5 separate regions of the Homo sapiens genome follow, and regions 1, 3, 4 and 5 are each linked to region 2. The links come from fine-mapping of genetic effects on gene expression. A gene starts in region 2. Each other region holds a variant in brackets. All regions are shown on one strand. Distances are between the middles of the regions.

Region 1 (5,106 bases), 180 kb before region 2:
TGCACAAAGACACAAAAAAAGGTATAGTATGATACAAACAATGGATAAACACCTGTAATCCCAGCACTTTGGGAGGCTGAGGCAGGCTGATCAATTGAGGTCAGGAGTTCGAGACCAGCCTGGCCAACATGGTGAAACCCGGTCTCTACTAAAAATACAAAAATTAGCTGGGCATGGTGGCGCATGCCTGTAATCCCAGCTACTTGGGAGGCTGAGGCACAAGAATCCCTTGAACCCGGGAGGCAGAGGTTGCAGTGATCTGAGATCGCGACACTGCACTCCAGCCTGGGCAATAGGGTGAGACTCCGTCTCAAAAAAAAAAAAAAAAAAACCAAAAGGAAACAAAACAATAAAATCATTATCACAAAAGGAAACAAAACAATAAAATCATTATCACAAAAGTGAGGCTGTGATAATCCCAGGAAAGAGGAAGGGCACCCTGGAGTTCCAGGTGCCAGCAATAGTCTACTTCTTACTCCAGGTGGTGGGTACACACACGTTCACTGATTTAACCGTTCTATATACATCTACATTTCACGCACTTTTTAGTATGAATGTCACCTTTCACAATGTGAAAATTAAAAAGGGAAAATAAAGGGCAGAGTTAAACAAACATGTTTCTACTATAGTGTGATATGTTTCAAAAGTAATATAGTTTCACAAGCAATATAATTAGAAATTATTTCATCTTTAGTAAGAAAACTTGAAGTGCCACAATACATGGTAACATTTTGGGCAGAGAATTCAACAAGCATCCAACGTGACAAGTGGTTAACTGGAACATTTGAAACTCCTCTTGGCATGTCCAAATCTGGTTGCCAATTCTGTTGTCGGTGGATTATTTTCACTTGGAGGGATGTGTTCATCGACATCACATTTTCTTAAGTATATTCGAGTAGGGAAGTCAAATTGGGAAACTGAATAATGCAGTCACATCTGTTCGTTGCACATGCAAAATGCTGGCTCGTGAACTGATTATACACACCTCTCTCCAAAGAATCTGCATTTATGAGCCCACTCAGGAAAGATAACACTAGCATCTTGCCTTTTAGGCAAAAGCTTATTTGTGCTTCTCTTGTAAGAGAGCACTGGGAAAGAAATGGAATGTCGATTACACTGCAGCTGGGCTCTTTGAGGTGAGTAAGTCAGAGAGAGAAGGAAACAAGCACTCCATTCAACATTAAAATGAACGCACTCTGCTGCATCGCAAAGCTCCCTGTCCTCAATGTTCACCTTGAGTCATGTCGGCCGCAAATACTGCAAAAGCTTGGATTGCAATACACGTCTGTGGGGCAGCAAGGCAAGGGGTAAAGCTGCCCAGTGCTGTGCTTGCCCTCCCACAGAGGCTGGACCAAAGTAAAGTCAGAGGGATGGGAAATAGACAAGCAAGATGAAGACTAAAGAAAGTCAGTCCCAAAAGGGACCATTTACATGGTCCCATAATACATACTTCTATTTGAATCCCAATGATCCGTACATGATTAATGGCTCCCGACACATCTCATTCCTTCCCTTCTCTTATCCCTTCCTCCTTTTCTTTTCTCCCCTGGAATTGCTCTGCCTAACTTAGTCCTATTTATCTACCCAGGCCCAGTTATTTTCACCAGTTGCCTCCTAGCCTGGCCAGGCCACAGAGATCTTTCTCTCTTCTGAGCGCCTGGCAATCACATAAGTGACGCTCTCCGCCATCCACTTGGCCTTTAGTTATTTGTGCCCCGCTGATTCCCCTCCAACCTCCCAGCCTCCCTGCTGCTCCCTGCCCTCCATTCAACCATTCCAGGGGAGCCCAGACCTCCTTCCCTACTCGCACGTTTCTCTCTTTATAGGCAATCTCACCCACTCCTATGGCTTTATTTATGATCAACCACATAGGCCAACCATTCTCAGTGTAGAGCTCCAGCCTGGGCCTTCTCTCCAGACCCGTATTCCCATATATTATGCAATTGTCCATTCCACAGTTCCCGCTGTGTCATCTCTCCCTGCATCCAAAAATGAATGCATGATGTTTCTTGCCCCTGGAACCTGCTCATCCCCATTCTCTCTGTTGTTTATCTCCTTGAAGGTCATTACCACCCACCCAGTTGCTGGTGGTGGACTCTGGGGAGTCATCCATTATGTGTCCTCCCCTTTGGCCCCTCACAATCCAATGATCACCATATTCCATGAATTCTACTCTTATTTCTTAAGCGTGTCTATGTCTCCCCACCTCTACTGCCATCAACCCAGCCCAAGCCGAACTATCGCTTACCCAGACATTTGCAACAACTTTCCAACTCATCCCTCAGACACCCTCCTCCCTCTCAATCCCTTCCCCTCACAGCGACCAGAGTGATCTTAAAAAAAAAAAAAAAAAAAAAAGGTTATATCATTTTCCTGCATAAAGCCCTCCCAATGACCTCCCACGTTTTTTGGAAAAAGTCCAAAATAATTACCCTGGCCTTCAAGGCTCCCAGTCAAGCCCCTACTTTTCTCCCCAGTCTTGCCTCCCATTACTCTCTGTCTGTCACTCACTAGGCCATTGTCCAGCTCCACCCACGGAGTGTCCGCCCAGCCTGCATTTTATTTTTAATTTTTATTTATTTATATATTTATTGGAGACAAAGTCTCACTCTGTCACCCAGGCTGGAATGCAGTGGTGCAATCACAGTCATTGCAGCCTTGACCTCCTGGGGCTCAAACAATTCTCCCAGCTCATCCTTCCGAGTACCTGGGACTACAAGTGCACACTGCCACATCCATCTAATTCCTAAATGTTTTGTAGAGACAGGGGTCTCACTATGTTGCCCAGGTTTAGCGTGCACTTTAGAAATGCCTGAGGAGCTTTAAAAACTAGCCCTGCCTCAGCCCCACACCTAGAGATTTTTTACTTAATTGGACTAGGGCAGGGCCCGGAGATTAAGACTGTTGAAAGCTCCCCAGGTGATCCTAATATGCACTAAGTTTGAAACCCAGAGGTCTAGACAACACCAGCCACCTCAGTTCCTTCAAAAGCGCAAAGCTCTCTCCTTGGCCCCTTCTGTTGCTTACACTCCCACCTCTCCTCCATTGCATGCTTGCAGCTCCAAGTTAGGTGTTACTGCTTGGGAGATCATTTAACAATTATCTCATCCTACCCGAGCTTCAAGCAGCTCACCCTGCCATCCATAGTCAATGTTTTTTTATTCTCC[T/C]GGTGAAATGATTTGTGGCCATGCCATGCAGAGCCACATTGGAGCCTGAGGCAAAAGGAAAAATCAGTAATAGTGAACCTGTGTTTATTTATATATTTATTTTTTAGATGGGTCTCACTCTGCTACCCAGACTGGAGTACAGTAACATGATCACAGCCCATTGCAGCCTCAACCTCCTGAGCTCGAGGGATCCTCCCACCTTAGCCTCCCAAGTAGCTAGGACTACAGGTGCATGCCACCAAGCCCAGATAATTTTTATATTTTCTATAAAGACAAGGGTTGCCCAGGCTAGTCTTGAACTCCTGGGTTCAAGCAATCCACCCTCCTTACCTTCCCAAAGTGCTGGGATTACAGGAGTGAGCCACTGCACCCAGCCTGATCTTGCTGTCACCTAGGCTGGAGTGCAGTGGCCAAATCAGAGCTCACTGCAGCCTCAACCTCCTGGACACAAGCAATCTTCCGGCCTCAGCCTTCCAAGTCACTGGGATTAGATGTGAGCCACCATGACAGCAAAATGTTTATATTTTATGTATCATAGATTTTTGCATTCATTTCCATTAGAAAAATTTTTGCATTAAAAATTTTCTTGATAACTGAGTTTTTGGAGCCCCCTTACATTTTTGCACTCAAGGCAAGTGCTTCACTAGCTTTACCCTAGCCGTAGGCCTGATCTTTGAAATGGTTTCTTTACTGCCTTTCTCCCCCACTGGCCTTGAAGCTTGGTGAAGTCAGGGAGAGGCTCTCATTGTTCACTGCATTATTCCCAGTGCTCAGCCTATCACCTGGTACAGAGTTGGCATCCTGTAAATGCTTGCTGAGTTAATAAGTGACAGGTATCTCTTCTTATCTGTATTTTTTTCCTCTTGATTAAATCAGAAGCTTCAGCTACCACACCTGTCCAAGATAGAGTTCACTGCTTCCTCATTCAGCTTAGAAACAAAGCCAGGTTGGCGAGGCGGTTGACTTCCTCCCTCCCTCATCTCTTGGCCCTGCCGGCCTCCTCTTACGTTAGCTCAGTTTCTGCCTCAATCAGTTCATCAAAATCCCTTTGGGTTCCTTGACTACATTTTTACTTTTGAAACACGTCTATCACAAAAAGAATTTTCCAGTGTCTTGGAGCTATCTTCCTGTCAAATAAGATAGAATTAGAGAATAACTGTAAGGGTCATCTACAACATCCCTCTCAACCCATTCTGTGCACAGGCACCTTGTTCACTGGCATTTCTGTCACCGTAGGTCTGGGGCACATCCTGACAGCAGGCATTCCTAACAAGCTCTCAGGCGATGCCATTGCGGCTGGTTCCCAGGCCACGCTGAGCAGCGTGAATGTAGACCAGTGTTTCCCAACTTTCCCCAATGATATGAATCACCTGGGCACTAAAAAATAAAGCTTCCCAGACTCCTCCCCTGGAGATTCGAATTCAGCGGGTCAAGGACAGATCCTAAAGATTTTTCTTTTCAACAAGTACCCGGGCTAATTCATCTCTTCAGAAAACTGGGGCAACACTGACGGAGTCCAACACCTTCCTCTCAAGAGAATATCACAGGTGTGGCCCAGCACCGCCAGGGAAAGAGCTTCCCCTACCTTGCCGTACCTTCTCCCCTCGCTTTCTTCCCTGGAAGCCATAGAGAGCAAATCAAACACATCAGCTATCTGAAGACAGTCTGCAGGAGACTGTGAGCCCCTTGAGGGCAGAAGTTGTAATGTATTTTTAGGTTTTGTTATGTGGTTATTTTAGGTTTCTCATTTTAAAGATATTTTATAAGAGTATAAAAGCAGTGCAACAATGCAAAGATATGTAAAGAGAAAGCTGGTCATCCGTCTCCCCGCACCCACCTTCTTCCCCACCCCAGCGACCCGAAGTGAAGATTGGTAACAGCCTGGCAACGTTATTCCTTCGAACATAGACAAGCATTTATCCACACTCAAGGCTTTTGT
Region 2 (5,106 bases):
TACAAAGATCTTACAAGTGACCAAAAATAGCTCAGATTAGTAGATAAAAATACCCCATAGTTACAATAAAATTACAAGTATCTCCAAGTACCCAAAAGCTAGAATCTTGATACTAATTTTAAAATAAAACTAATAAAACTTGTCTTATGTTTTTTGAAAAAGTTCTGCTTAACAAAAACACCAAAAATTAGCCTTTTAACCAATGCTTAATGCAATAAAGGACTCTGGAAATATGAATTTAGAAAATTTTTGTATAAGAGTTTTAACCCACAAACATGTTATTCAATTGTTTTTTCTTCAAATATAAGACTACATCAGTTTCTTACTGTTTTCATTATTTTTAAAAGAACATTTAGTATACTACTACTCAGTAAAGTGCCTCATGTGTTTGTCTTACTTTTTATTACCTTATAGAGAACAGTGTCTTAACTCCTGAATTTAATCACAAAAAGTGAAAAAAGATAGGAAAACGATTTGTTGAAAGCCACGTTTAGAACAGAAATAACAAATGTCAGATGAAAAAGGCTCCTCTAACAGAGAGTCTCCCGCACATAATCCTTTTTAAAACTAAACATCTATTATCAGCTCTTAATCTATAATGTGTGTCTTGCTTGATGAATTGGATTGAAAAAAATTAAATAAAACGTGTAACAAAAAAATGAACACTACAAACTATAACAGAAGTCTGCCTACGCAGTACCACCCTCGGACTCGGTAGAATACAGGACAGAAATACACTTGGTCCTGCAGTCATAAGTCAAAGTGGCAAAGAAAAAAACAGAAACAATACATTACATGAAATAGATATTTTCTAAATTATCAAAGGCTACAGACACTCATCCAAAGCATTCCTCAAATTTTTTCAATCGTTGCTTTTAGGCACACCTTGAGGTTTTTAAGTTTACTCTGGGGCAAGTCAAAAAGCTTACCTAAAATAAAGCACTTTAAGCAAGAATAAAATGATGCAGCTGGTCCTAGAACACACCGGAAATAAAAATCGTTGTCTTCAAAACCCGAAACAAGAAATGACATGCTTTTAGCAAATTTGACTTTCATGTGCAGGGGGGAGGGGGCACTGTTTTGACAATCCACTAACTACACTGTACATCTACTCCACCTGAAAGTTTAACGAAACTCTTCAAGTTGGGTCACCCAGGGACCGAACTTCTACTCTAAGAGACCCAATCCAGCCTACAAATCAAAGAACATCCCCAAATGGTTTACCCTTCTCCCGACCAAACCCTTTCCCCTGGGCGACAGAATGTTTTCAAGAACACCAACACACCCTCCTGTGATCTCTCTCCAAACACAGGACACAGGAAGAACCGAGGCCACTAGTCTCAGATAAGCGGGTGATGACTGCTGCCACTCCACGGGCGGCCCCTCTGCAGAATGGGGTCGGTCAGGACCGGCGCGCCGGGTAAAGAACAATACACGAGCCCAGCTGCAAACAACACAACTTCCCACGAGTCTGCGCGGCGGGTCTCGGCGGCGGAGAGGACTTCGGAATCCGCCACCGGGCAGGGGCTGGGGGAGGAATGGTGAGCAGGATGAGCGCTGAACGAGGACGGCGAGACCGCCAGCCTCGCTGCGGCTGCCTGCACCGGCGCCCGCCGAGCAGACTGGAGGGATGCAGCCACCAGCCTGGGTTCCACCGCTCTCACCAGGCGACGCGGATGCCCCGACTTCGCTTCTCTGGGAGGCGACCCCCGCCTCCCGGGGCCGCCAGGGCGGTGGGGGGCGGGGAAGGCCTCGCCGGAGGCTTGGGAGCCTCCTCGGCCCGCCACCGAAGGGAAAGCGGTCGGGGCGCGGGGGACAATAGGGAGCGGGGAGCGCGGCCCGCCAGAGTGGCGCCGCTGGCCGGCTGGGCTGACTGACGCGCACGCCGCGAGGCGCGACTGGGCTCCGCTCGGCCCGGCCGCCGCTCCGCCGTGGTCGCGGCGCCCCCGGCGCTCGCAGTCGTGCCTCACCTCCCATCCCCGCCGCCCAGGAGAGGAGCAGAATTAACACTCTCAGCAACACCATCTTCCGCTGCCGCTGCCGCCGCCGCCGCCTCCTCACGGGTTAACAGCAGCACATCGATCCGGAGGGAGAAGCTGAAGGGGCTTGGTCCGGAGCCTCCACGGGAAGCCGGGACCTCCCCTGGCAGGAGAAACGGCGAAGCACCTCCCTCTCGCTCCACTTCAGGGGCCGGCAACGCTCCTAGCTCCTCCAAAACAGGGACCTCCCTCCCCCTCGTTCGTTTCCTTCCTCCTTTCCCCGCTTTCCTTCCCTTGCTCGTTCCCTCTTCTCTCCCCCCCTCCTTCGAAACTCAGACCTCCGCCTCCTTCCTCACCACGTGACGCGCGGGCACCCAACTGGCACGCGGAGCCGCGCCCCTACCTCCCGCCCCTACCCGTCCCCCAGGCGCTTCAGGGGCGCGCGCATGCGCGCGGGGGACGGTTCCCGTGCTGCTAGGCCTGCCGCCGCTTCCTGTCCGCCGGCGGAGAGCTGGGATTGGGCTTGGGAGGCGGGGTTTGTCCTGGTCCCGCCCCGGGGCGGGAGCGCTCCTACGCGGAGATAGTGCTCCGCTACGTGTTAGAGCTGCTGAGGACCTTCCCTTGGGCTAAAATGGTCCGTGGAAGATGTAAGCAGGGCTGCTTTCGACTTCTTAACGTCACAAGTAACAGAGGTTTTTTTTCTTCTTTTTCTGCCTCTCTTGGTGCACCACAGCTACCAAGTAAACAAAAAGTCCCAACAAGCAGTAATTATAGCGGCAGCTGCCCCAGTGATGCGAACATAAATGCAAAGACCTTCAAGCAGCAGGAAAAAAAGACACCATGTCCGAGATGTAATTTTCCGAGCTCTTTACAAATTTATGTCACAGACTAAGGCTTTAGCCTTTGCAAAAGCATGCAACCTGAACCAGACTGTCTTGAATCTCCAGTCCAGAAAATGTCCTCTTTTCTCTCTGTCACATCTTTGAAGCGAATCCACGCACATCTTCTCCCCAACTTCTTAAAGCTTGTGTTTGTTTTCTCGTAACTCATTTTGATTCTTTAAACTTGGATGTCATGAACTAGAACTTTTTATGGCCATTTAATTAGATATTCTTCATCTATTTGGTATCGTGCTTGAGTAGGCCGAATTAGGGAGAGTGTGTGTGTGCGTGTGTGTGTGTGTGTATGTGTAAATTGTTTTGTTTTGCTTTCTAAAGACAAGGTCTCCGCTGTCTCGCCAGGCTGAAGTGCAGTGGTGTGATCATAGCTCACTGTAACCTCCAACTCAAGCCGAATTAGGGAGAGTGTGTGTGTGTGTGTGTGTGTGTAAATTGTTTTGTTTTGCTTTCTAAAGACAAGGTATCCGCTGTCTCGCCAGGCTGAAGTGCAGTGGTGTGATCATAGCTCACTGTAACCTCCAACTCAAGCGATCCTCCCGCCTCGGCCTCCCACAAGTGCTGGGATTACAGGCGTGAGCCACTGCGCTCGGCCTTAATGTTATTGATACTGTAATAAACTGGAATTCCTATACTGTTACCTGTATATTTTATACCATTTATTACCATTAACATAAGTGAAGAGAATTTTTTTTTTTTTGAGACGGAGTTTCGCTCTCGTTGCCCAGGCTGGGGTGCAATGGTGTGATCTCGACTCACCGCAACCTCTGCCTCCCAGGTTCAAGCGATTCTCCTGCCTCAGCCTCCCAAGTTGCTGAGATTACAGGCATGCACCACCACGCCCAGCAAATTTTTTGTATTTTTAATAGAGACGGGGTCTCACCATGTTGGTTAGGCTGGTCTCGAACTCCCAACCTCAGGTGATCCGCCCGCCAGCCTCCCAAAGTGCTGGGATTACAGGTGGGAGCCACCGAGCCTGGCCATAAGAGTCTTCTTTAATTCTCAGTTTGAGAAATGAATGATTCTAGTTTTGCTGCAACATTAATAGGCTCAAAAACGGACGTTTCAAAACCATCATAATTGTATCCATTTATAATGAGATACATGGAATCATCAAAGGATGGCAGAATCTCACGAATGGTTTTTTTTTCCTTCATTAAAATATTCAGTCTTAGGAAATAGTTACCTGCAGACATTACATCTCATATCACCTGTGCTTTTTACTAATCTCTTGTGGTAGTGCTGTCAACAAATGATATTTTTATTTTCCAGCTCTTAAACCACCTTATAGCATGTTTTCTGTTGCACAGTATTTTTATAATGAATTCCAGTGATTAGAGGCAAATGGCACTTTCCCTTAAAATTCAACTGGAAAAAACTCCAAAGCCATATTTTGCATTACTAAGATGATTACTGAAAATTACATTTATAAAGACTGTATTTTTTTTTTTAATTTTTAAAATGTATTTATTTTGGCCAGCCACGGGGCTCACAGCTGTAATCCCAGCACTTTGGGAGGCCAAGGTCCGCAGATCACTTGAGGTCAGGAGTTTGAGACCAGCCTGGCCGACATGGTGAAACTCCGTCTCTGCTAAAAATACAAAAATTAGCCAGGCGTGATGGCGGGCGCCTGTAGTCCCAGCTACTCGGGAGGCTGAGGCAGGAGAATGGCGTGAACCCGGGACGCAGAGCTTGCAGTGAGCCGAGGTCGCGCCACTGCACTCCAGCCTGAGCGACAGAGCTAGGAAAAAAAAAAAAGCCGGGCGTGGTGGCCTGTGCCTGTAATCCCAGCTATTCTGGAGGCTGAAGCAAGTAATCCCAGCTACTCAGGAGGCTAAGGCAGGAGAATCACTTGAACCTAGGAGGCGGAGGTTGCAGTGAGTCGAGATGGCGCCACTGCACTCCAGCCTGGGAGACAGGGCAAGACTCTGTCTCAAAAAAATTAATTAATTAATTAATTAAAAATAAAAATCAAATAGCCAGTGCAGTGGTATGCACTTGTAGTCCCAGGTACTCGGGAGGCCGAGATGGGAGGACTGTTTGAACCCTGGAGGTTGAGGTTGCATTGAGCTGTGATCACACCACTGCACTCCAGCCTGAGTAACACAGACAGACCTTGTCTCAAAAAAAAAGAAAAACTGTATTTTTTTTATTTGTCAAGCACGAATGGCATTACATACCAGCATGCACGAATGGCATTACATACCAGCATGATAATGAATGGTATTCCA
Region 3 (5,106 bases), 280 kb before region 2:
CAAAGAACTGAGGCTTCCTAAACTTCAGTTTCTGGGTCTGTAAAATAATAGGACCCACTTCCTATAAATGTTGAGAAGATTAATGGGAATGATGCATGTAAAATGCTCGGTACATGATAAAAGCCCAGTGATTACTCATTATCCCACTCAATGCTTGGGGAAAGGCAAAGCAGCTAATATTACCCCAGATTATAGATAAGAATACTGGGTTCAAAAGAGATCACTTGGCTTACCCTTGTCTATACTGCACCTGCATGAATCATGGACCTGAACCCAGGTCACGGCCACCTCCCAGACCCTTGCTCTCTCTGCTTCCCCAGCAGCGCCTCTCAGAGTGAACACCTATGTCCATGACAGTGATTCCCAAAGTGTTGTCCCCAAACCAGCAGCATCAGCATCACCTGGGAACTTGTTAGACATGTTAGGGTCTCACCCCAGACCTAATGAATCAGAAACTCTGAGAATGAGGGCCCACAATCTGGGTTTTAGCAAGATCTCCAGAAGATTCTGATGCACACCCGTTTGAGAACCAAAGCTCCATGGAATACTAATTTGCCTTTGGATCTAGCCCTGCCGCCCACTCGAGATGGATGGTCCACAAATCTCAATGTGATTCCTAACATGAGTTAAGCTGTCCAACCCTGTGACGTTATCAGGGGATTTGTGATTAATACATAGTGACACCATTTAACTGTGGCAGAGGTTCTTACCCTTGGAAGCTCATTAGAATCATCTAGGGAACTTATAACAGAAAGGCCCACCCCAGACCAGTTCAGATCTAAAGACAGCCTGGACTGACAACCACAGAACTACAGAGCTGCCACCCAGACTCCATGGAACTCTGCTAGGCTGGTAATATTTTTAATTCATTAAGGGTTTATGTGTTTAACAACCCAGGTCCAGTAAATTGGCTCCTTTCCTCCCTATGAACCTTGGACACTCTGGCTGGTCAAGCCTCCACCTCATGCCCACTTGTTTGCACAGCTACTAACGTTTATGAAGTATTTGCTTAATGTACCTAAGCTCCACTGCCCAGAGCTATCCCACTTGATCTGAAAACGTCATGATGAGGTATGGTAAGCATTAAACATTAGTTCACCATAGTTCTATTTTTTTCTAATAACTTAAACGGCTTCAGGGAACATTTTGTGTGTGTGTGTGTGTGTGTGTGTGTGTGTGTGTGTGTGTACGCCTTAAGAGACTGGATCTCACTCTGTTGCCCAGGCTGGAGTGCAGTGGCATGATCGTAGTTTACTCTAACATTGAACTCCTGGCCCAAGTAATCCTCCTGCCTCAGCCTCCCAAAGCACTGGGATCACAGGCATGAACCACCATACCCACCCTAAGGAATATAGTTTTTTGAGCATGTTGGAGTACTCAGAACTCTCAGCTCAGCTCTTGGCCCACTTGGGTCTCAACCATTTAGAGTACTGATTACCAAAGGAAGAGCACAAAGGAAGAAAATCAGCTTTTCTCCTCTTCCTCAGTGTGGGAGAGGGGATTTGGCTTGGGCTCAAAGCCATAGTGATGCTTTCTGCTCCACCCCCTTTCAATTAAAGATCACCAGCTTCCCAAAAACAGGCCACCCTCATTTTCCAACCTGGCTCAGGCAGGGAAGCTGAGAAGCTTGGGGCTGCCCATTCACCCAGTCACCAGGCAGATAGACAGGTAAGAGAACTGGGACCTTCAGGCCTGCCCTCGGGAGGACTGGCCACCAGGCTTTACAGCCCAGAGCAGAGAAACACTGTGGCCGTTGCAAAACTCCTTGAGTGAAGTGACCCTACCCTCTACTAAAAACGTGGCCCAGTGGATTCCAGTTACTAACAAAGCTCGTTGAGAAGATGCAAGAAAGGAATGGAACAATGGCTAGGACCTCCCCGCGGCAGCACTTCCCCCAAGAGAATAGAGGAGCTGATGGGCACGTCACATTTTTCTCAATGCTGGATGACATTCCATCACCTTCCTCATCTTCATGGAATTTTTTTTTTTTTTTTTGAGACAA[G/A]GTCTCCCTTTATCACCCAAACTGGAGTGCAGTGGTGCAATCATGCCTCACTGCAGTCTTGACCTCCCAGGCTCAAGGGATCTTCCCACCTCAGACTCCTGAGTAGCTGGGACTACGGGTACATACCACCACACCCGGATAATTTTTGTAATTTTTTAGAGATAAGGTTTCACCACATTGCCCAAGCTGGTCTCAAATTCATGGCCTCAAACAGTGCTTCGGGTTCAGCCTCCCAAAGTGCTGAGATTACAGGCATGAGTCACCGCACCCAGCTGGAATGCATTCTTTGAATTTTAAAAGACTGTAAATGAGAGATTTGTTCAGAGAAGAGGGTGTTTCCTATGTACAAAACCAAAGACCAGCTTTTATTTTTTATTAGGTATTATAGTCACAAAGGTATGAAAGGGTATATAGTAATAAGTCTAAGAAATTTTTATGAAGTTTTTGAAGTAAAAAGCATTTTTATAAAATTTTAAATAAAAATTTTAATAAAATTACTCAATTGTTAAATGTAACTTAAAATTACTTTTTCATAAAATTACTCATTTTATAAAACACATTTTTCCTACTTTGAAAAGTAGTACATGCTTAATACAGAATTGGAAAAGACAAAAATACAGAAAGAATTGCATTTAACTCCTTTTTTTTTTTTTTTTGGTAGAGACGAAATCTCGCTCTGTCACCCAGGCTGGAGTTCTGTGGCGAGATCTCGGCTCACCGCAACCTCCGCCTCCCGGGTGCACACCATTCTGCTGCCTCAGCCTCCCCAGTAGCTGGGACTACAGGTGCCAGCCACCACACACAGCTAATTTTTATATTTTTAGTAGACATGGGATTTCACTCTATTAGCAGCCAGGATGGTCTTGATCTCCTGACCTCGTGATCCGCCCAAGTCAAAACTTCAGATTTTGCCAAACACCTTGAAAGTATGAGTAGATAGAGGAAGACTCGTCCTTTTGTCTGCCTCCTTTTCATCTTCCTAATACCTAACACCTCTCTAATCTTTCTAGAAATGGGTAAGAAAAGCTTCCATAAAGAAAGGTGGAGAGAATTGAAGCATGGTAGTATTTTTGCAGGAGAAATTATAAGGTTTGAAATTTATGGAGGCCTCAGGACATACCCAATGACCTAAGGTCTAGGCCAGAGATGGTAAGTAGGATTTTTTTTTTCTTTTCTCTTTTTTTTTTTTTTTTTTTTGAGATGCGGTCTCACTCTGTCACCCAGGCTGGAATACAGTGGTGTCATCTCGGTTCACTGCAACCTCTACCTCCCAGATTCAAGCGATTCTCCTACCTCAGCCTCCCGAGTAGCTGGGATTACAGGCACTCGCCACCATGCCTAGCTAATTTTTTTTGTATTTTTAGTAGAGATGGGGGGGGGTGGTCTCACCATGTTGGCCAAGCTGGTCTCGAACTCTTGACCTCAAATGATCCACCAGCCTTGGCCTCCCAAAGTGCTGGGGTTACAGGTGTGAGCCATCACACCCAGCTGATAAGTAGCTTTAAACACAAGTGAGGATTCTATTCCATCAGGAATGGCTGCTTTATGCAGAAGAACTCTAAGATTACATCAGGCTAAGGGTGACAGAATGCTGTAATCCATTAGCCTTATCTGTCATGGTCATGGCAGCAGCAAGAGGCAGTCTGAGTGCCATACACTGCAGTAATCTAGGGGTGAGCTGAATAGTGAATGGAGATTTGCCTAAAAGAAACTTCTGGAGTCAGTGCTCCAAAACTCTGAATCAACCAAATGAATGAATTGAGCCAAATAGAAATGCATGACTATTCAATATTTATTATGTAGAGAGGCTTAGAAAGGGCAGGCACCTGGAGTTCCTCCACCCTCCTCACCCAATCACAACTGCCCTTACTGCCCTACCAGTCCAGCCACGTGCCCTTTCCCACCCCTCTCAATGACCCTTGGGCTCCCCAGTGAAGCTCCCTGAGGGCAGGGGACATAGCTCTTTGGGGCCATAAAGGCATTAGCTCACCCTTCTCAGCCCCTTACACATTTACTGGGTACTTAGATCAGGCCAAGTGTGGTGGCTCATGCCTGTAATCCCAGCACTTTGGGAGGCCAAGGTGGGTGGATCACCTGAGGTCAGGAGTTCAAGACCAGCCTGATCAACATCGTGAAACCCCATCTCTACGAAAAATACAAAAAATTAGCCAGGCATGGTGGCACGTGCCTGTAATCCCAGCTACTCGGGAGGCTGAAGCAGGACAATCACTTGAACCTGGGAGGCAGAGGTTGCAATGAGCAAAGATTGCACCATTGCACTCCACCCTGGGCAACAGAGTGACATTTGGTCTCAAAAAAAAAAAAAAAAAAAAAAAGAAATCTTAGCAGGATTACATCTGTAACCCCGGCACTTTGGGAGGCCGAGGGAGGTGAATCACATGAGGCCAGGTGTTCAAGACCAGCCTGACCAACATGGTGAAACCCTGTCTCTACCAAAACATACAAAAGTTAGCCAAGTGTGGTAGCATGCGCCTGTAATCCCAACTACTCAGGAAGCTGAGGCATGCGAATCACTTGATCCTGGGAGATGGAGGTTGCAGTGAGCCAAGATCCTGTCACTGCACTCCAGCCTGGGCAAGAGAGTGAGACTCTTGTCTCAAAAAAAAAAAAAAAAAATCTTGCCCCTTCCCTCAAGGGGCTCACAGCCTGTGGGAGAGGGAAAATAGATATAATTATATTTAAAGAATTATAAAACAAATTGTATAAATTTAAAATTATAATTAAATCATTGTAATAATTTAGATCAGAAAAAATAAAGGCAAGTAAGTGCCAGGCATGGGGCTAAGCATTGTACTCACCCACTGTATTCCATGTTGTCTTCACAACGGCCTTATGAGGTTTGCTAGTATTGCCCCCATTTTACCAAGAAACTGAGGCTTAGAGCATTCAAGCTAGCCAAGGGCTAAGCCATGACTCAAACCCAGGTGTGTCTGACTACGGCTGTTACTAAGAGGGGAAGGGAATCATCTGAACTTGGGTTTCACTCAGAAAGGGGCATGGTTTTGTTAACTTTGAAAACACTACCACCCTACCCTCTAGCACTGGCAGAGGGGAGCTGGACGCCTGGACAGCTGGGGAGGGGG
Region 4 (5,106 bases), 140 kb before region 2:
AACTAAAAAAAGAATAATCAAACTTTTCAAAAGAAAAAAAGTAGAAAAAAATGTTTTGCAAAATTCATACTTCTGTGACTTTTTCACATGCTCTGTCCCCATAAAATATTTCTGTACTCTCTACTTCTACTAATTCTTAAGAACTTAGCTTGGCCGGGCACGGTGGCTCATGTCTGTAATCCTAGCACTGTGGGAAGCCGGGGCGGGTGGATCACCTGAGGTCAGGTGTTCAAGACCAGCCTGGCCAACATGGTGAAACCCCATCTGTGCTAAAATACAAAAATTGGCCAAGCATGATGGCAGGTGCCTGTAATCCCAGCTACTCAGGAGGCTGAGACAGGAGAACCGCTTGAACCTGGGAGACGGTGGTTGCAGTGAGCCGAGATTACGCCACTGCACTCCAGCCTAGGTGGCTGAGTGAGACTCCATTTCAAAAATAAAAATAAACAAAGAACTTAGCTCTGGCGTTATCTCCTTAAAGGCTTTTCCTAATAGGTTCTCCCAGTTCTGTGAAAACAGCACACAGACTGAAGATATGTTTCTCTGGCCTGTCTTCTCTATCCCAAACTGACCTGTGAGCTCCCTGGACTTATATCCTATTACCTCAGTACCTACCCAACAAACAAAATACCTGTTGAACTAGTTATTACAAGTAAGTCATTATTTAAATATTGACCTTGAAACATAACTAACAGCTCATTTATTACTTCCAGATTGCCTAACACATACAAATAATGTGACAAGGCCGTTACAACAGAGATAGGACAGTAAAACTGGTTTGGATATATTTAATGATAGTCTTTTTAGTACCTACACACTCTTTTTTTTCTCTTTTAAGAGACAGGATCTTGCTCTGTTGCCCAAGCTGGAATGCAGTGGTGCAATCACGGCTCACTGCAGCCTTGCCCTCCTGGGCTGTGGTGATCCTCCTGAGTAGCTGGGACTACAAGGTACATGCCGCCACACCCTGCGAATTCATTTATTTATTTATTTGCACACACAGGTCTTGCTAGATTGTCCAGGTTGGTCTTCAACTGCTAGTCTCCAGCAATTTTCCCTCCTCAACCTCCCAAAGTGCTAAGATTAAAGGTATAAGCTACTGTACCTGGCCTATAGATTTAAATAAAGAGCCATACGAGTACACGCTATGGCAGTAAGAGAGGCAGATTGGAGACAGAAAGCCCAGATTTAGTAGTGGTTAAAACTGTAGAAAACAAAGGTAAAAAGAACCTAGTCGCAGTTTAGATCAACAGATGTATAATAAAATATGGCACTCAAGCCCTTCAGAACTTCCAGTTCCTTCTAGCACAGTGTTCCTGGCTTTCTTCTAAATTTTTTCAGGTAACTATGTATCTCACAAGCCCAATGCTTGAGATGTTTTAGTGCCAATGATAGTAGCTTTTGTGAATTTAGCGTGTGGGGAAATGGAACATGGCAATAGACAAAAGACAGTAAGAAAAACTAAACAAAATAAATAGTGCATCTGAAAATATTAGTAAGTACGGCCACCTTTATAGTTTTCCTTTTTAAAAAAAGAATGAGTTAAATGCTAAATTACATGCTATCCCCTTTAAATATACTATAAAATCAGGGAAAGGAATACTAACTAGGGTAGTAAATGTAAAATATGCATTTCTCTCAAAAGAAAAGATCACAAATTGCCCACCTGTTAGTCTGAAAGAAAGGGGAGCTGTCATTCATTCAATGAACATTTACTGAGCGTAAACTGAGTGCCAGGGTCTTATATCCCAGAGACAAGGGTGTTAAGCAAAACTTTAGGGACAAAGAGAAGACATCCAACCATTTTTCAAAAACTCAAGAAGTTTCTCAACTCAGAAAATAATTCTACATAAGAAAAAGAGAGATGATGTTCAATACAGGCACTTAAACATAGCCAATAATAAAGTAAAAAGTCAAAATTAAATAGTCTAATTTATTATGTATTAATTACAATAGTATTTAATTTGATAATCTAAATATAAACAAAAAGAACCTATATGGTAACAAAATGACAAAGCAAGTATCATCTAAAAAAAAGTGCATGAGCGAGGACAGGGAAGACATGCACTCAAGTCTCTTCAGACATAAGATAATCTACTGTTCTTAAAGACCTCCAGAAAGTCAACCATATGATCCTTTCAATGAATACTGCAGTGTTCAACAACGCTCACTCTCAGCAAATGCATTCTGGACTTCCCATGGGTCACAAGACCATGTGGGGCCCAGAGCTCCTTGCCATGATACTGATTATGTCATCCCTATAGGGGCAGAAAGTTTCCTTTCAATTTTTCAGAAGACATAATACTATAGTCTGGGCTTTGAATATATACTCCTCCTATCCTTCAAACTCCCACCACCACTAGCAGCAGCAGCAACAGCGATCTGCCAAGCAGAAAGCAACTTGCTACTAAACTTTTGGTTACTTTAAGCTCAACCTGGGCAAGTAAGATAAAATACCACTAACAGGAACCTGAAAACATTCCAGTTTCAAAGTTAATATGCACAAGTTTTACTCTTTTCCATATAAATTATTACATTTGAGAAATCTGCTTCATT[C/T]ATCTAGCAAATGTATACTGTGTCCTCACTATATGCTGAAAACCTTACAATATCATTATATCTTTGTTGTTAAAGTTTCATTAAGTGCTATGCTATGTGGTCTGTTCCACAAAGCAATGAAACCACCTTCTATTTTCAACATATCAAGATGATAAAATGGAAAATTTCTGTTACAAGTCTTTTTAAAAAGGAGTCACATATCACAGAGACTGAAAAAAATGGCAGACAAACTATTAGCACGCACCATCACCTACTGACTCAGTGGGTCTGGAATGGAACGTAAGAATTTGCATTTCTATGAAGTTCCCAGGTGATGCTGATGCTGCTTCTCAGGCCTACACTTTGAGATCACCGCTCTCGATCAGGAGTTGGCAAATATTTCCCATAAAAGCCCAGATAAACATTTGAGGTTTTGTGGGGCCATACAGTCACTGTTGCAGCTACTCAAAGTGCAAAAGCAGCCAAAGACAATGTGTAAACAAATGGGTGTGGCCATGTTCCTATAAAATGTTATTTATCAATACTGAAATTTGAATTTCATATGATTTTTAAAAGAATGTTTTGATAATTTTTAAATTTTTTTCAATCATTTAAAAATGTAAAAACCGTTCTTAGCTTCTGAGCCATACAGAAATAGGCACGGGCTGGATTTGGCCCATGGGCCATAGTTTGCCAACCCCTGTTCTAGATGAGTGGTTCTTAACCCTGGCTCCTCATCAGAATTAACTGGAGAGTTTTAAAAGACCCAGATACTTAAACCCAAGAGATTCTGATTTAATTAGTCCAAACCCTAGGGTGATTCTGGTATACAATCAGGATTGAGAACTACTGCTATTAATCAATATTTTTCCAAATGACATCTAAGGATATTTAGGACTTAGTCTTTTCATCATAAAAGTTTCTAGGGTTAGGTAAGTTTGGAAAATGAAGTTTAAACGATTTATTTATTGCAGGTCTTCTCACAAATCTCCAAGAAAGGTCTATAGTATGGAGTAGTTTTCCAGATTCATTTGACCATTGAAGGCCCAGAACATCTAATGGAACTAGTGTTCTGTTAAGCATTTGGGAAACAGTGCTCTAAATCTTTCATTCATAAAGAATACCAGATACTTACTACTTAGATGCATAAAATTATAGCAAAATATGACAGCAGAAACTAATTTTAAAATGAGAATGTGTTTGACTCTTGATAAATTAGCAATACAAAAATACAAACTCCTGATAAATCTGAACAAGTTAAAAAGAAAAAAGCCACAAAATCATCAGGCAATGATTTTTAAAAGGAGGGGAAACACAACAATACATTTGAACAATAAAAGTCAAGGTAAGAGGTAGTTTTCTACAATGTCAAACCTAACATGAAAGATACAGAAAATCAGAACACATCAACTATAGAAGAAACTGGAAATGAATTACCAATGCCCTCAATCCCTAATTAAAGAAAAGGAGATGCTGAAATAAGGTCTCAACAGATTTACTGATGAATGCTCTTAAATGTTTCAAGAACTAGATGACTCTTTGATAAATCCAAAGGATGTTTATCATTTTATCCTGTCCAAACACACAGTAGGCACTCAGCAAATACAGTAAATGTATTTGGAAAAATCAAAACATAGTTGTCAACACAGAAAAGAAAGTATCACTTCCGTGGTACCAGTAGCAGCAGTCAATAACCCATGCCCTGAAGTTCTAAATTGTTAAGGTTCTTCCTACTCTACCCTGCATGAGGAGAAAAGCTGCCATAGTGTAACACAGAAAGAAGACAAAACGCCACCAGGCACCACTGGAAAGGAAAGTAGTGAAACTAACCCCTCACTTCTTTCACAGCTTCTTACACAAGAGCATCCTGATAATCTGTATTACTAACTGGAAGGGCACTTCCCTAACATGATAAATCCCGGTATGCAAGTAAACTATGCACATAAGCAAATGAGACAAGTAACTTGTAAAGACCAGATGTTTATTATCTTACTGCTTGATGTGGTTAATGCCCACAAATGCACCAACAGCCTAGCGGTACTCTTCACACATTATGAGCATGCTATTCGAAAGACTGGCATATGCCTGTCAACAATGATATAAAATAAAGGCATGTTCTATCCCACACACACTTAAAGTCAACGTCTATGAACTTGAAAGTGTCTGATTAATTAGTTCCAGAGCACAAGAAAGGACTTCATGTTGCCAATTCATTGTGAAACATTTCATTAATCCTCACATCTAAAATATGGGGAGAAAAGGTCTTAAAAATACTTAAAAGATCATGTCTATTAAATATTTTTAAAGTGAAAATAAATGGGCTTTTGAAATTCTAAATAATGTAATGAGTGAAAATTAGAGATAACAGAGAAAAGTAAAAAAATGCTATGTTTAGATATGACTTAGTACCCCAAAAATCTAAAATATCTAGCACAATATATACTCAGTAGAATGTAATTCTGAGATCTCCTTTCGTTTTCTGTATACACTGTCTTCTACAGCAGACAAGTATACCAAATTTCAACTTTTCTTATTAGAGACAATCAGAAAAAAAAATAGCTGAGTTGAAAA
Region 5 (5,106 bases), 370 kb before region 2:
AAAACCTTGTAAAGACAGAAAGAAGGTGGCCATCTACAAGCCATGGAGAGGGACCTCCAAAGAAACCAGCCCTGCCAACCCATTGCCCTCAGACTTTAAGCCTCCAGAATTACAAGCAAATGTCTGTTGTTCAAGCTATCTAGTCTGCGGTACTCTGTTACAGCAGCCCCAACAAATTGATACAGCCGTAATTAGCTAGACTTGAGATGAGATTATCCTTATAGGGGAGGAAAAATAATTTCCCTCCCCTTTTTCTGAGTTTTTATTGGCATGGACCCTTGTAACAAAAGAGATTAACAAGAGACAAACAGAAGTTTATTAACAGGTCTACTATATATATACAAGAAAGATACCCAGGGAAAAGTGAGTAAATCTCCAAGAAGTTGCTTTTAGTTCAGGTCAAATGTCATCTTCAGAAGAAAGGAAGGAAGGAAGGAAGGAAGGAGGGAGGGAGGGAGGGAGGGAGAGGGGGATGAGAGGGGAAGGAAGGGCGCCAGTTTTGGGGAGGTCAGGAAAAGCACAGTAATAAGAGCAAGGTTTTTCCTGTGGATTTACTCAGTGCCTTCTCCATTGAGAAAAGTCTCTAGTGATTTGGAGGATTTCTTCTCTTCCTGGTACAGAGCAGGTACCTTACAAATGGGGATTTCCTTTAGAAAATACAATTCCCTTACAAAAGGGTAACTTCTACTCTTTGTTTTTAGAGTTACTCTGGTGTCTACAGTTTCTTAGAATAATTAGCTCAAAAATAATCCTCATGCTAAAGAGGCATATTTTGGAGTAGCACATTCTGGCCTCCTACAGTCGTATTTTGGAGTGGCATAGTTTTGGTATTCTACATCCTGGAAGATCTAAGGGGGCCCAGTGAAATCACAAGAGTCCTTATAAATGGAAGAAGGAGGCAAAGGAACAAGAACTAAAAAAATGACAGTGTGAGAAGGAGTTGGCCTGATAATGCTGGCTTTGAATATGGAGGAAGAGGCCACAAGCCAAGGAATGTAGCCTAGAGACACTGGAAAAGGCATGAAAATGAATTCTCTCCTACAGCCTCCAAACGAAACACAGCCCTGCTGACACCTTAATTTTAGTCCCAGGAGCCCAATTTGGGACTTCTCACTTCCAGGATTCTAAGAGAATAAATTTGTGTTGTTTTAAGCCATTAAGTTTGTGGTCATTTGTCACAGCAACAATAGGAAGCTAATACACTTTCGTACAGGTCATTTTTCTAATACAGTTCTCAATGCAGCCCTTTAGGACTTCCCTACTTAAAATTGAACCCCTCCCCACTCCCCTTTCCTGCTTTATTTTTCTCTAACACACAATATAGTTAGACTTATTTATCATGCTTATTGTCTCTATCCTTTGTTTAAAACATAAACACACAGCTGGCAGGGTGGCTAATGCCTGTAATCCCAGCACTTTGGGAGGCCAAGGAGGGCAGATCACTTGAGGTCAGGAGTTTGAGACCAGACTGGCCAACATGGCGAAACCCCATCTCTATTAAAAGTACAAAAATTAGCTGGGCGTGGTGGTGGGCGCCTGTAGTCCCAGCTACTCAGGAGGCTGAGGCAGGAGAATCACTTGAACCCAGGAGGCAGAGTTTGCAGTAAGCTGAGATCGCGCCACTGCACCCCAGCCTGGACGACAGAGGAAGGCTCCATCTCAAAGAAAATAATAATTAAAAAATAAAAATAAAACATACATACACAAGGGCAGAAATCATTGCTTCTTTGGAATAGTCCTACCACACAGTAGGTGCTCCATAAAAATTCAGTGAATTAATAACTTAACTTGAATATAGTATTAAGACTAATCCTTTATCCACATAACAGATTCCCTCCACCAAAAAAATTAGCAATTTTGTGGTTATCTCTTTATATTTTCCTCATATAATTTTAGAATCAAACAGAGCCTGCTCCACCCATAATGAAAGTCAAGGAGGAAAGTACATTGGAAATGAGGAATAATTAAAACAACTGTATTAGGCAGGGCTCTCCAGTGAAATAGAACCAATAGGAGATTAGATAGATAGATAGATGATAGGTAGATAGATAGATAGATAGACAGATAGATAGATAGATAGATAGACAGACAGATAGATAGACAGATAGAGTCATGCATCGCTTAACTACAGCACTGTTTTCTGAGAAATGAGTCATGAAGGCAGCTTTGTCATTGTAGGAATGTAACCAAGTACTCCCATTCGTCTAAGAAAAACAGAATGATTTTTTTCTTTTCTTTTCTCCTTTCTCCTTTTCCCCTGTTCCTCACTTCCTACTTAGACCTCCCCATCACCAGACATTCCCTACAGGGCAAGTTCATCTAACTATATGCTTAGGGGCTCCAGAGTGGAACTCTCTCCCGGCTGAAGATTGCCTCGAGAGCAACACTCAATTTACAAGCCTAAGTATGCCCACTACAAAATTCTCTCCCACCTGGAGAGTTTCAGACACTTTTAAAACCTAGTTCTGCCCATGAAGGCGCCAGCTCAATGGCCCAGTAGATAAGGCACTGAAGCGAATTATGTGGACCTCCATCCAATTGCTTTCTCCCCTGCATGCCATTCATGCCAAGC[C/A]CCCTTTTAAAATAATTCCTACTTTCTGCACCTGCTACCCTTAAGACAAGAAGCCTGTACTTCTTCCCCTAAGCTAGCTTTGAAATATAATATATCACTTTTTTTAGAACTAATAAACAAATTTATTAACGTTACAGGATACAAAATCAAGATGCAAAAATCAATGGTGATTTTATACACCAACAACAATCTCATTTATATTAGCAACGAAAAGAAACCACTTAGTAATTAACTTAGCGAAAGAGATGAAAAATTTGTACATTGAAAATTATAAAAGATCGATGGAGGAAATTTAAAAGACACAAATAAATGGGAAGACATCTCATGTTCATAGATTGGAAGAATTTTTTTTAACTTTTAGTTTAATTTCAGGGGTACATGCGCAGGTTTGTTATACAGGTAAATTTGTGTCATGGGAGTTTGTTGTACAGATTATTTTATTACCCCAGTATTAAGCCCAGCATTCACTAGCTATTCTTTCTGATCTTCTCCCTCCTCCCACCCCCACTCTCCAATAAGCCCCAGTGTGTGTTGTTCCCCTCTGTGTGTCCATGTGTTCTCATCATTTAGCTTCCACTTACAAGTGAGAACACATAGTATTTGATTTTTTGTTCCTGCATTAGTTTGCTAAGGATAATGGCCTCTAGCTCTATCCATGTCTCTGGAAAGGGCATGACCTCACTCCTTTTTTATGGCTATATAGTATTCCATGGTGTATATGTACCACATTTCTTTATTCAGTCTACCACTGATAGGCATTTAGGCTGATTCCATGTCTTTGCTATTGTGAATAGTGCTGCAATGAACATACATGTGCATGTGTCTTTATAATAGAATATAAAGCAGTTCCTTTATATCAGACCTCACTCTTGTTAATTGGACTCTGCAAGCAGTGAATGACTGGATCTGCATTTCAGTTACAGGAACAACATAAAGTGTACTTACACAAATTTACACGATACAGTCAAATATACAACTAGGCTATATGATAGAGCCTATCGGTCCTAGGCTAAAAACCCTGTACTGCATGTTACTGTACTGAATACTGACAGCAGTTGTAACACAGTGGTAAGTATTTGTGTATCTAAACATATCTAAACATAGAAAAGCTAAAGTAGTATAATCTTATGGGACCACCATTGTATATGTGATCTATCATTGACCTAAATGTCATTATGCAGAGCATGACAGTATACATATATAAAATAAGGAATTGGTTCACAAGATTATGGGGGCTGAGAAGTCCCGAGATCTGTGGTCAGGCAGCTGGAGACTGAGGAGAGTCAAAGTATAGTTCCAGTTTGAGTCTGAAGGCCTGAGAATCGAGAGAGTAGATGGTGAAAGTTCTAGTCCAAAAACCAGCAGGCTTGAGACCCAAAAACAGCCAATGTTTTAGTCTGAGCCAAAAGGCAGAAAAGACCAGTGTCCCAGCTCAAGCAGTCAGGCAGAAGGAACTTCCTCCTACTTGGCCTTTTTTTTCTATTCAGGTCTTCAACTGATTGGATGAGGCCCAGCCCCATTAGAGAGAGCAATCTGTTTTACTCAGTCTGTCTATCAATTTAAATGTTAGTCCCATCAAAAAACATCCTCTCAGATACACCAGAATAACGTTTAGCCAAAAGTCTAGACACCCAAGGCCCCGTCAGGTTGACACATAAAATTAACCATCACAACCACCAATTTGCATCAATAACATTGGACAAAATGGTTTAGGACATCTAACAAGTGAAATAGAGGAGTTGCTCTGCCCCGACCAAGCCTGAGCCTTGGCTCCACTCCAGCTGGTTCCTGTGCTTGGAGAATAGGAAATCTTTGGAAATATTAGTCAGTTCCCTAGAATATTTAGAAATCCTTGTCCTATAATCAGCCATTTCTCCATAAATACTCCATCAGTTCTCACCTGGATTCCAGACTATATCCACACAGACCATGTATGGGTGAATTCAATAATTCTTTACAAAATAAGTGTCTGATGACTGGGTGCCGTGGCTCATGCCTGTAATCCCAGCACTTTGGGAGGCCAAGGCGGGCAGATCACTTGAGGTCAGGAGTTTGAGACCAGCCTGGCTAACATGGTGAAACTCTGTCTCTACTAAAAATACAAAAATTAGCTGGGGGGCGGCAGGGGGCGGTGGTGTGTCCCCGTAGTCCCAGCTACTCAGGAGGCAGAGGCAGGAGAATCGCTTGAACCTGGAAAGTGTAGGGCGCAGTGAGCCAAGATGGGGCCACTGCACCCCAGCCTGGGTGACAAAGTGAGACTCTGTCTCAAAAGAAAAAAAAAAAGTGTCTGATTGTGATTACTTATTTCATTGTTAAGACAAATGTTCTGGGCTGATCCATCTTTGGCCCAGACTTTCTAGGAACATCAGCTTTTTACTTGTAGCAAAACTATTTACCTGTTTTTGTAGACTAAATTATTCCCTTAACATAGGTAACACAGGCCTGGTCTTGACCCTAGGGAATTTGAACATTTTCCTGAATTATTTCTATGTTCTTATTGATATAATCATGGTAACACTTCCTTCTTTTCTTTC

Which allele goes with the higher level. Alleles are on the strand shown, and positions count from the first base shown. SD is a standard deviation of normalised expression in the study named. Not every link is listed here.
As copies of C replace A in region 5, the expression in thyroid of the gene that starts at base 2,198 in region 2 goes down (small effect, 0.33 SD a copy in GTEx).

The links.
Region 1: its variant is fine-mapped to the expression of ADAM10 in whole blood (TOPMed, PIP above 0.99).
Region 3: its variant is fine-mapped to the expression of ADAM10 in fibroblasts (GTEx, PIP above 0.99).
Region 4: its variant is fine-mapped to the expression of ADAM10 in whole blood (TOPMed, PIP above 0.99).
Region 5: its variant is fine-mapped to the expression of ADAM10 in thyroid (GTEx, PIP above 0.99). The same link has a PIP of 0.9 or more in lung.

Annotation. Positions count from the first base shown.
Region 1 is chr15:58,570,790-58,575,895 of GRCh38, forward strand. No RefSeq gene overlaps it. Among named protein-coding and RNA genes, the nearest start is that of LIPC-AS1, 75 kb to the left of the region's middle. The variant T/C (reference allele first, on the strand shown) is at 3,168.
Region 2 is chr15:58,747,510-58,752,615 of GRCh38, forward strand. It overlaps ADAM10 (ADAM metallopeptidase domain 10), which reads right to left and starts at 2,198. Exons shown (of 16, transcript NM_001110.4): 1 at 1,971-2,198. The coding sequence starts at 2,025. RefSeq lists enhancers at 1,331-1,966, 1,418-1,547, 2,638-2,817 and silencers at 1,658-1,947, 2,278-2,567.
Region 3 is chr15:58,467,956-58,473,061 of GRCh38, forward strand. The region is part of intron 1 of LIPC (lipase C, hepatic type); the gene reads left to right. The region is part of intron 2 of LIPC-AS1 (LIPC antisense RNA 1); the gene reads right to left. Among named protein-coding and RNA genes, the nearest start is that of LIPC-AS1, 28 kb to the right of the region's middle. The variant G/A (reference allele first, on the strand shown) is at 2,003.
Region 4 is chr15:58,603,929-58,609,034 of GRCh38, forward strand. The region is part of intron 14 of ADAM10 (ADAM metallopeptidase domain 10); the gene reads right to left. Among named protein-coding and RNA genes, the nearest start is that of LIPC-AS1, 110 kb to the left of the region's middle. The variant C/T (reference allele first, on the strand shown) is at 2,557.
Region 5 is chr15:58,376,407-58,381,512 of GRCh38, forward strand. No RefSeq gene overlaps it. Among named protein-coding and RNA genes, the nearest start is that of LIPC, 53 kb to the right of the region's middle. The variant C/A (reference allele first, on the strand shown) is at 2,573.